Homo sapiens: one gene and its partner. The protein of the gene in region 2 purifies or fractionates together with the protein of the main gene of each other region. This does not show direct contact. Each region holds a gene or a part of one and is shown on either strand. Other genes may lie near its edges.

Region 1 (4,292 bases), on a different chromosome or scaffold from region 2:
ACTGCTGCATGCTCCAGTGGCACCCTGTGCTTACCCTAAGATAACACCCATCTTGCTTTACTATAATCCTGTCATCTGCCTTTCCTAAGCTACAAGCTCAGTAGGGGCAGGGACATGGCCTGTCTTCTTCGGTGATGGGTCCCCAGCATTGCGCATGTGAATGGGCACGTATCACATACTCAACAACCATTTCTTGAATGAATGACTAAAAGAATGCATCTTCTTCCCAATAGCTCAAATTCCATCTTCTCCCTGAAATATATGATTCTGGCAAAATTAATAACCCTCTTTCCTTTATCATCCTGGGGTGTAGCTCAAAAGGTTTTAAAAGGTTCTACCTGCTTTTACTCTTTTGGGAAAGAAGGAAGGAAAGGAGTAATTAAAGAGGGAAGTGAAATCAGTCTGTTAAACTGTCTTAATAGGTCTTAATAGATTTAATTCCCACCTGGTTGTAAATATCATCAGATCTCAGTCGACCAATGACCATACTGATGAAGGATTCGTTGATAGGCACTCTCTGGAAATAGCTCTCGGGATAGTTGGATGGTCTTTTGGCACCTGGTTGGCTAGAATAACCTGTACTTCGAAGCAGCTTACAAATATCGTCCATATTTGAATCAGCAGAAGATCGAGCAGCACTGAGTCATATTCACAATGGGAAACAAAGACCCAAAACACACATATTAGAAACTGAAAAGTCCAATAAAGTAGAATTCCATTCTACTTTGACTCAATATAGTTTCAGATATGATCACAGGTCCATCTATATCCTCAATATATCCTCAAGATTCAAAATTATGTGTATATATATGTGTGTGTGTGTGTATATATATATATATATATATATACATTTTTTTTTGAGATGGAGTCTCGCTATGTATGTATATATAACCTTTTTTTTTTTTTTTTTTTTTTTTGAGATGGTGTCTTGCTCTGTCACCCAGGCTGGAGTGCAGTGGCGTGATCTCAGCTCACTGCAACCTCTGCCTCCAGGTTCAAGCAATTCTCCTGCCTCAGCCTCCTGAGTAACTGGGACTACAGGCATTTGCCACCGTGCCTGGCTAATTTTTGTATTTTAGTAGAGATGGGGTTTCACCATGCTGGCCCAGGCTGGTCTTAAATGTCTGACCTCAACTGATCCACCCACCTTGTCCTCCCAAAGTGCTGGGATTACAGGTGTGAGCCACTGTGCCCGGCCTCAAAATTATATTTTTGAAAGCCTGTTTAGAAGATGGGTATTCATACTATGTAAAGGTCCATAATCCCTTTTCCAAAATCCTTAGGAGTGGATTTGTTTCGGAATATAGCATTTTTCAAATAGTAAGAGTCATATGGCATATAGATCATACACAATACAACACTCCAGCAGGGTCTGAATTGGCATCTCATGATCAACATAAGTGAATAATTCTGGAGGAAAATTTATAAATATTTACAAAAGTGAGATAAGTGAAGACTATATATAGCCTCACACCTATTCCAGGCAAGTTTTGACTCCAAATGATTTCAGCTTACATCAGGTTTTGCTGCCAAATGAATTACTATGTATATGTACATGTGTGTTGTGTGTATACTCGTGTATATATATTTTTTCAGAGCTCTTTGGATTTGAAAATTGTGGGTAAAGAATGTGAACCTGACATTTTACAAATTAAAAAATAATTTAAAAATATTATGTCAATTTAAAGTAAAATATATCTAACTTTTTTCTTGGCAAGCTGTTCCTTCTACAGAGATCTAATAAACAGGTCTGTGATTTTTCCGGGTGGAATAGTAAGCTCTGAAAGAAATGAACTAGATTCAAAGAATCTTAGACTTGGATATGACCTGCTATTTGCTGTAAGGATCTCTTTTGCCACGACTGTGACTTGGAAGTGTTCAGTGTCACTTCAATAATAAATGCTCACATTCTAATGAATTAGCTGTTGTACCAAAGGGGACAAAGCCATATTTTCAAAACTGGGCTTCATAAGCCAATATTTTTTTCTTCTTCTTTACACTGTGTATAGTTTTTGTTTTTCCAGGTACTCTCAGAAATATAGGAAAGGCCATTCAAATCTCATTTTTAAAAACATGGATGTTAAAACAGCTTGGTCAAACTGACATGAATGAACACTGCTAGAACACTCCCTTCAGCTGAAAGGAAAAGGCTAGTTGAGGAGCCTAAGACTAATTTGCTGCTGAGGACACAGTAGTACCTGGTATTGCCGAAAAGTATAATGTCCCCAAAGAACCCCCTTCTCCTTGTCTACTTTGTCCTAATTTTTAAGTTTGAAAATGTTAATTCTACTCTTTACATCTTTAGCTCAAGCTCCTGACTCCTCCTTCTTGACAGTTTCTTCTCTGAATCTTGACTATCTCCGACATTGACCTGGTATTCCATTTTTAGCTCATTCAACCAATTGAAAATCTGTGCGTTAGACACTAAAATTAAAAAGTTGGTTAAGGTGGCTCCTGTTTTCAAGACCTTACTTCCTGAAGAATCACAGTTCTGTATAGATAAACACAACAAATGATTTGTGGATATGTGCTGTTGCTTGATTTGTTTTTGTTTCTATGTAAACATGGGAGAGAATTCACTTTCAACCTGACTCTGAATGACAACTTTTCAAAGTCATCAAACTGAAATGACAACAGAAAGCACACTTATTTCCTTATATCTGCCAAGGAGTAATATTTGAAAACTTAAACAACAAAAGCAAAAATAATCTTCATTAGATTTCTAAGATTCTTTGAAATTTAGCCTCAAGGTAAAGAAAGTTCACAATTCAGACTCCTTTTTAAAATTGGAGTTATCATTAGGGACAGCATAATCCATACTTCTAATAATCTATAATATATAGAATACTTGATATGTAATACATAGATTATATAATTTATAATCATTATGAAATATGTAATTGTTATATACCTACAATATGCTCACAAGACATAAGAATCTTACTTTTTTTTTTTTTTTTTTTGAGACATAGTCTCGCTCTGTCACCCAGGATGGAGTGTAGTGGCATGATCTTCGCTCACTGCAACCTTCGCCTCCCGAGTTCAGGCGATTCTCCTGCCTCAGCCTCCTGAGTACCTGGAATTACAGGCGCCCACCACCGTGCCTGGCTAATTTTTGTAGTTTTAGTAGAGACAGGGTTTCACCATGTTGGCCAGGCTGGTATCAAACTCCTGACCTCAGATGATCTGCCTGCCTTGGCCTCCCAAAAGTGTTGGGATTACAGGCGTTAGCCACTGTGCCCGGCTGAATCGTATACTTTCTTATCTATTCTTGGATTACTGCTGTTCACAGTATAAGGAATATGGGGACATACACTGCATTTTACCGACAGCAGCGTTTCGGAAGTGTAGTCCTAGCCCAGGAATACCTGTATCGGTAGTAAGAAACCAGCATCCTCTCTCTGACTTCTCCTTCAATCTTTTGGTCAATGACCAGTAGCATAACTCCATATAAGTACAGTGCTTCACACTAAGAAGAGAAGAGGACAAAAGCCAAAATCACTAGATTATACATTCTTAGGGAGTAAAGTCGGTAATCATGAAAAATATTGCTTTGCTCACACTTCTTCAAAAAGTTTTAGATTTCAAGGAAAAGGTAGGTTTCCTCCAAGGAGCTCTTACCTTCTTGCCGAATGGGCCTTGAAAAGTTTATGTAAAACAGATTTTAATTCATAGTGATAATTTTTCAGTTGACCTATTTTGGCTATGTTGCTTGGGACACCAAAATAGCAACCCAATATTGTGTATACCTCTTCATCATAAAATCATTCACTTATTCAATCAGCATTTCTTAAATGGTTAGTATGTACTAGGTATCAGGACAGATGGCTGGGATGCAAAAAGTAAAGAAGACAGAATTCTTACACCGAGGAGGCTCATAACTTCCACATAACTTTTAACTGTTTTAAATTCTGTTCAAAGTCTATGTTCTAAACTCAGATATGGACCTGCCAGTTAGAAGATAATTAAAAGCTCATTTCGCTTCTCTTTAAAGAATGGTATTTCGTATATATTTGTGACTTAAAAGAAAAAAAAGTGATACTATGTTTGATATTCTTGAATTTCATTTTAAATAATCATTATTACTTACTAGAAGTTGTTTTCCATCTTCATTGAGAAGCACAGTTTCTAAGGTTTGCTGAATATAAACCCCTTCATTGAGATCATCTAGATATCTAGAAATAAAACCACAGTGCAAGTTATTAATTTATAATAGAAACTTTAACATCTTTAAAGAAGGAAAGATTTTTAAAAGATAAGGCAGGATGCCAGGCATTCTGGCCTTCCACTAG
Region 2 (5,863 bases):
TTAGTCTACTAACTTTAAAAAGTTTTCCCTTTTATATAGCCAAGAACTTACCTTTCCCTTGTCCTCTCTTGGTCCTCCTAAATTTTCTCACAACTCACCTGTGTGGCTTTTCACCAGAATTCCTTTTGTCTGGAAAATCTTCCTTCTTCCTCCAAACCTAACCTGAAAGCATCCTCCCCCTAAATACTAGCCTTTCTGATTTTATAGAAGCTTCATTTCCTTGCAGCAGAGGGCTGGTCTAGCTCTTAATGCTAAATTCATTTTGCTCCATAAAAATGATGCATCAGCATCAGCAAAGCACAGAATCACCTACCAACACATGTCCTTTCTGCCAGTTGCTCATCCAAATATGCCTTTCTGGTGGTGACCTTGTGTTCCCTTCATCCTTCTGGTGACTCAGTTTTCCAAACCACAGAATTTTTCCCTACCAAGTTCACAAATCCTAAATCATTTCTGTTATAGGTGGTTTCCCAGCTGGGTGCAGTGGTTCACACCTATAATCCCAGCACTTTGGGAGGCTGAGGTGGGAGGATCACTTGAGGTCAGGAGTTCAAGACCAGCCTGGGCAACACAGCAAGAACCCCATTGGTATTAAAAAAAAAAAAAAAAAATATATATATATATATATATATATATATATATATGTTTCCCAAGGTTAAACAAACTTGATAAATGAAAGGAACTATGGACAGAAATGAGCTTGCTTGCAATAACGCCCTCTAATGTGTTTAACGCTTTGCACAAATGTTGTCAGGGAGTGAAGAGATGGAGGGAGGAAGGAATACATTTTACAAATACTTCATCAAGATGATTTCATTTGATCTTCCTAACAACCTTGGGAGGCAGGCAGGGCAGGCATTTATTACTCCCATTTACAGATGACAAAACTAAACTTCAAAAAGGTTTAAGTGACTTGCCCAGCCTATATCACATGACTAGCAAGTATCAGCTCAGACCTGTATTAAGGTCTTGCCTCTTCCAACCCCAAGTCTGTCTCTAACTCCGTATGTTTCTGTCTACAGCCAAGGAGTAACTTCCTAGAGATTCAGCATTTCAAAGCGAGAGTAGAGCTCTGACTTCTGGAACACCATCTCCCTTCAGCTACCAAGCTGGAAAGCCAACTTCAATCTCCCCAAGAAAAAACAGTGCCTTTCTCTTCTACATACCCCTCTTAACAACTACTTCTTTCCAAAATAATTTCCAACAGTTCCTGTTTTAAAAAAGACTTACTCATAAGACACTAACAGTCCAAAAAGTTTGCATCAGCGTAAGATTTTCTCAATAAACTTCAGGGCTGATGCAACATTTCTCAGTCAAACTTTACAGCTAAAATGACAAGAACACAGAACAGTCAAAAAATTACGCAAGACAATGCTACAGTTTTTTACTCTACCACATCTGCCTCTATGGGTCTCCTGTGAGTCACTGTCTTTTGTGGTCAGTCATCCCTACAAGAACTGCCATTTTCTACCCTAAATTATTTTATTTTTTAAAGAAAAGATCTGCAGGGCCAGGTGTGGTGGCTCACATCTGTATACCAGCACTTTGTGGGGCTGAGGCAGGAGAACGGCCTGAGCCCAGGCGTTCCAGACCAGCCTGGACAACATGGTGAGACGCTGTCTCCACACACACACACACACACACACACACACACACACACACACCAGCCTGGACAACATGGTGAGACGCTGTCTCTACACACACACACACACACACACACACAGACACACACACACACACACACACACACACACCCTTACAATAAAAACAGAATCCTATTACATCTTTCGCCACCTAGCTAAAGCACTGATCTCTAAGTTATTTTTTCAATGTTTACAATTACCATTTTACATAAACAGAAAAAGAGGCATAGTAAGGTTGAAGTTGGATTATTTAGTCATTTGATAAACACATTTGAAATCCTATCAAAAACCAGGGAATGAGACTCAAAAGTGAGGAAGAAGTGCCCCTCCTCTTGTAGCCTGGTGGAGACAAAAAGTAAAGAAGTAATTACAGGACAAACTAATCAAGATTAAGGTGTGGGTAGGCACATGGGCTGGGGCTGTAGAAATCATGAATGCTTCCTAGGGAAAGTAATTTGTGAGTATTTAGAAACATCTATCTCTTTATTTTCAATACAAAATAAACCTAAAGGACTCGACACTATTCCCTGAAAGGTTATAAGACTTACTTGCCAATAGTCAAGTCAAAAATCAAATTTAATAGCTGAATTACTCTTGACTCCCTATCCTAAATTTCAACCCTTATGCCATACTCCCTTTAGGCACAAATGATAGCAAGTTTAACAAATTCTGTCCTGTATGTGCCTTCTCACATGTCTACAGAATAGGATTAAAGACACACAGCGTGAAATAAATAGCCCTTTTTAAAAAGATAATAATTTTCTTAACTGGAAGTGAATGCTTTGAACAATTCAAGCCCTACAAAGCACGGCTGTCAGAAGAGGAAACTGAGGTTCAAAAAAGTCTCACTTTAATACAACAGAATAAAAGGTCTCTTTGAAGTCATCAGAAGAGCTTGAACGAAAAGAGAAACAGAAGGCTATTGTGAGCTTTAGCCTCCAGATGATGACCCCCCAAACACACTGCAATGGTAAACAAACAAGCCTCTGAGTCTGAATCTGATTCGGTGGACTGACAAAACATCACAATTGAAGGAATCTCTCTCCTCACTCATTACTTTTCCAAAAAAGTCCCACTAGCTGATAGCTCCAGGTTTCTTGCTGGTTCCTAGATTTATTGCTTGGAAATTATAATGCATAGTGGGCCTTTCAAAAAAAAAAAAAGGTACAAGCAAATGAAAACAACCACGGTTTTAAAGCCCCATAAAAGACCGTATATGTAGCAGAAATGAACCCTGCCAATGTTTACTATGAGGACCTATTACTCCTTTATGCTACTCGAGTGGATTTTAAACTCAAATGAATGCTACCACTGCCCACTAAAGAGCAAGTTAGAGAAGCACATTCATACACCTGCTTAACAGCGCCCCGACTGCCGCCCCCACCACTTCCCGGGACCAGGGCCAAGCGGCTGACCTGGAAACGGGGCTGCAGACCCCAGCCACTTACACTCTGCTGTCCCAACAAGTAGGCTCTGGAGTCACACTTCATTTGGCCCGGCACACCCTCATCCCCATCACCCAGACCCTCAGCTGCAAGGAGGAAATTACACGGCCTCAAAAAGGAAAAGGCTGGCGGCGGGCAGAAGTGGATGGTCCTGAGCGGTCTCGTTCCTGCTCCCCTAGTCCAAGGTGAGCCCGGGAATCCCGCAGCCCCCGCCCCCGCCCCCCAACTCGGAGTCGCTTTCCTGGTCGCCGCCGAGCTCCTTCCACCCCGCGGCGCCGGGAGCTGCGGTCCCCATCCTTGGCCCCTCCGGGCCTCAGCGTTCGCCTGGGCCCCAGGGGCCCTGACCCAGACCCAGCGGCGCGCCACAGCCTTCTCGGCCAGGGCCGCCCACCCTGTGGCCCGGTCTCCGTCCGACGACCCTGCCCGGCCCGCGCCAGGCAGCCCGCAGCCCCCTCGCGGCCCGGGGCCGCCCCACGCCGCCCGCCCGCCCGCTGGGCCGCGCACCGTGTGGGACTGCAGGCTCTGGCTCGCCTCGATGGCTGCTGTCAGCGGCACCGTGTCGTCCAGCAGCACCTTGCCGGCTGGCGGCTTCTCCATGAAGGCCATCCCGGGACGCCCGGCCGCCGCCGCCTAGGGACGCGAGGTAGGAACCCGAGGCGCCGACTCCCGCCGCCCGCCCGGTTCCACCGCCGCCGCTGTCAACACGCGCCGCCCCACGCGCCGCCGGGCCCGCGGGGTCCTAGCGCCGCCCTTCCCACGGCCGCCGCCCCGGAGTCCTAGCGCCGACCCAGCGCAGAACGTGTGGGGGCCGCCAGCACTGCCGCCCGCTGGCCCGCTCCTCCGCCTCGCGGCTGCCATGGGCCTGCGCTTCCCTGCTCCTCGCAGCCGCACCGCAGACCCGGTGCCCTTAGCTCCGGGCTTCGGACCAGGGAACACCACCCTAAGCCATCACTACCAGGATCCTCAGATCCAGAGACGCCTGGTCCTGAGCCCTGGGATCCAGGAATCTTCAGGGCGAGATTTCCAAACCAGGCCTCTCAGAACTGGGCTTTTCGGGGACCGTACCTCTTGAAACCCTCAGAACTGGATCTCTCTCATCCCCCAGGCCCAAGGACCCTAAAACTCAGAAAAAGGGCCTTTAGGATGGGACCCCCAGTCTGAGCCCTGCAAACCCAGAGACTTTCTGAAACAAGCCCTTCCTATTGAAACTTCACAGGGACTCTTGAACGTGGCTCCTCAGGCCTGAACACCTAAGAGCTGGACCCCATAATTGGAGGTCTTGGGCCCCAGAACCCTCAGACCCAAGCTCTAAGAACTGGAGACCCTATAAAATGGTCCAGAGACCCCTAGCCTCTACTCTTGGCCCCCACTGCGGGCTCAACCACATCCCTTAGACTTGGGAGTTTTTGATCCCACCATATGGACTAGAAGAACTTCAAACCAAGAGCCAAGCCAGAGAACCTTGGGATCAACTTCTCAGCCCTAAATCTGCCCACAGTCTGCCTGAACCCAAAGCCATAATCCTGGCACCACCTCATCCCCCCCATCTCCATATACACCTAGAAATTTCACCCACACTGCCCTCTCCTAGGGCAGCATTCCAGGATAGTGAAGAGTTAAATTTAGAATTGGAGGACCATCATCTCCATGGCTCTGGCATTTACCAGCTGTGTGATCTTCAATAAGTTACCCAACCTCTCTGAGTCCCAACTCCCCAATTTGCAAAGTGGAGATAATATTATTTGTATGAAAAGGTTAATACAAGGAATGCAGTAGACTGGGAAGGGGCTTGGCACATAGTAAAAACTCAAACGGTGGTCAGGCATGATCGCTCACGCTTGTAATCCCAGCACTTTGGGAAGCCAAGGTGGGTGGATCACCTGAGGTCAGGAATTTGAGACCAGCCTGGCCAACATGGCAAAACCCCCTCTACTAAAAATATAAAAATTAGCTGGGCATGGTGGCACGTGCCTGTAGACCCAGCTACTCTGGAGGCTGAGGCAGGAGAATTGCTTGAACCCGGGAGGGGGAGGTTGCAGTGAGCCAAGATCATACCACTACACTCCAGCCTGGGTGACAGAGTGAGACTCTGTCTCAAAAAACAAACAAAAAAACAGACAAACAAAAACACCTCAAACCGTGGTCAGGCATGATGGCTCACCTTTGTAATTCCAGCACTTTGGGAGGCTGAGGAGAGTGGATGGCTTGAGTCCAGGAGTTTAGCCTGGGCAATATGGTGAGACCCCGTCTCTACAAAAAAATTTTAAAAATACCTGGGCATGATGGCTCACACCTGTGGTCCCAACTACTCAGGAGGCTGAGGTGGGAGAGTTTTTTGAGCACAGGAGGTTGAAGCCGCAGTGAGCCATGATCATGCCACTTCACTCCAGCCTGGGTAACAGAGCAAGACCGTCTCCGGAAAAACAAAAAAAAAACAAAACAAAGTCAATATTAGTTTCCTCCTTCCCCTACAGTTGACAGAATGGAAGGTTCCTAACTCTTAAATTTGCCTCCACTAAATTTCTACACTTCAGATAAGGGAACAAAGTTCCTTGGTAATCCCACCACCACCACCAAAATTTGACATCACAGGAAAGGCCCACATCATACATAAAGGGTCCCTTCTCCAGATCTCAAGCTTATTGGGATTGGTGGGCAGCCCCGTTGAGTCAAGTAGCCATGAGATTGGTCCCAGGGGCCAAGATCTAATAGAGCGAGATGTGAAGAAGGAATCCTGGACCTTCATGATTCAGCCCTAAAATAATCAGAACTCTC

What was found.
Region 1: the proteins of PXK (region 2) and WASHC5 purify together in Homo sapiens (affinity purification with mass spectrometry; one large-scale study listed by BioGRID and IntAct). This does not show direct contact.

The regions. Positions count from the first base shown.
Region 1 is NC_000008.11:125,078,293-125,082,584, forward strand, and holds part of WASHC5 (WASH complex subunit 5), read right to left. Parts: intron 4,176-4,292; coding exon 4,091-4,175; intron 3,470-4,090; coding exon 3,369-3,469; intron 639-3,368; coding exon 446-638; intron 1-445. UniProt on the Homo sapiens protein: Acts as a component of the WASH core complex that functions as a nucleation-promoting factor (NPF) at the surface of endosomes, where it recruits and activates the Arp2/3 complex to induce actin polymerization, playing a key role in the fission of tubules that serve as transport intermediates during endosome sorting.
Region 2 is NC_000003.12:58,330,820-58,336,682, reverse strand, and holds the start of PXK (PX domain-containing protein kinase-like protein), read right to left. Parts: upstream 3,792-5,863; 5' UTR 3,695-3,791; coding exon 3,593-3,694; intron 3,378-3,592; exon of another isoform or gene 3,134-3,377; coding exon of another isoform or gene 3,092-3,133; intron 1-3,091. UniProt on the Homo sapiens protein: Binds to and modulates brain Na,K-ATPase subunits ATP1B1 and ATP1B3 and may thereby participate in the regulation of electrical excitability and synaptic transmission. May not display kinase activity.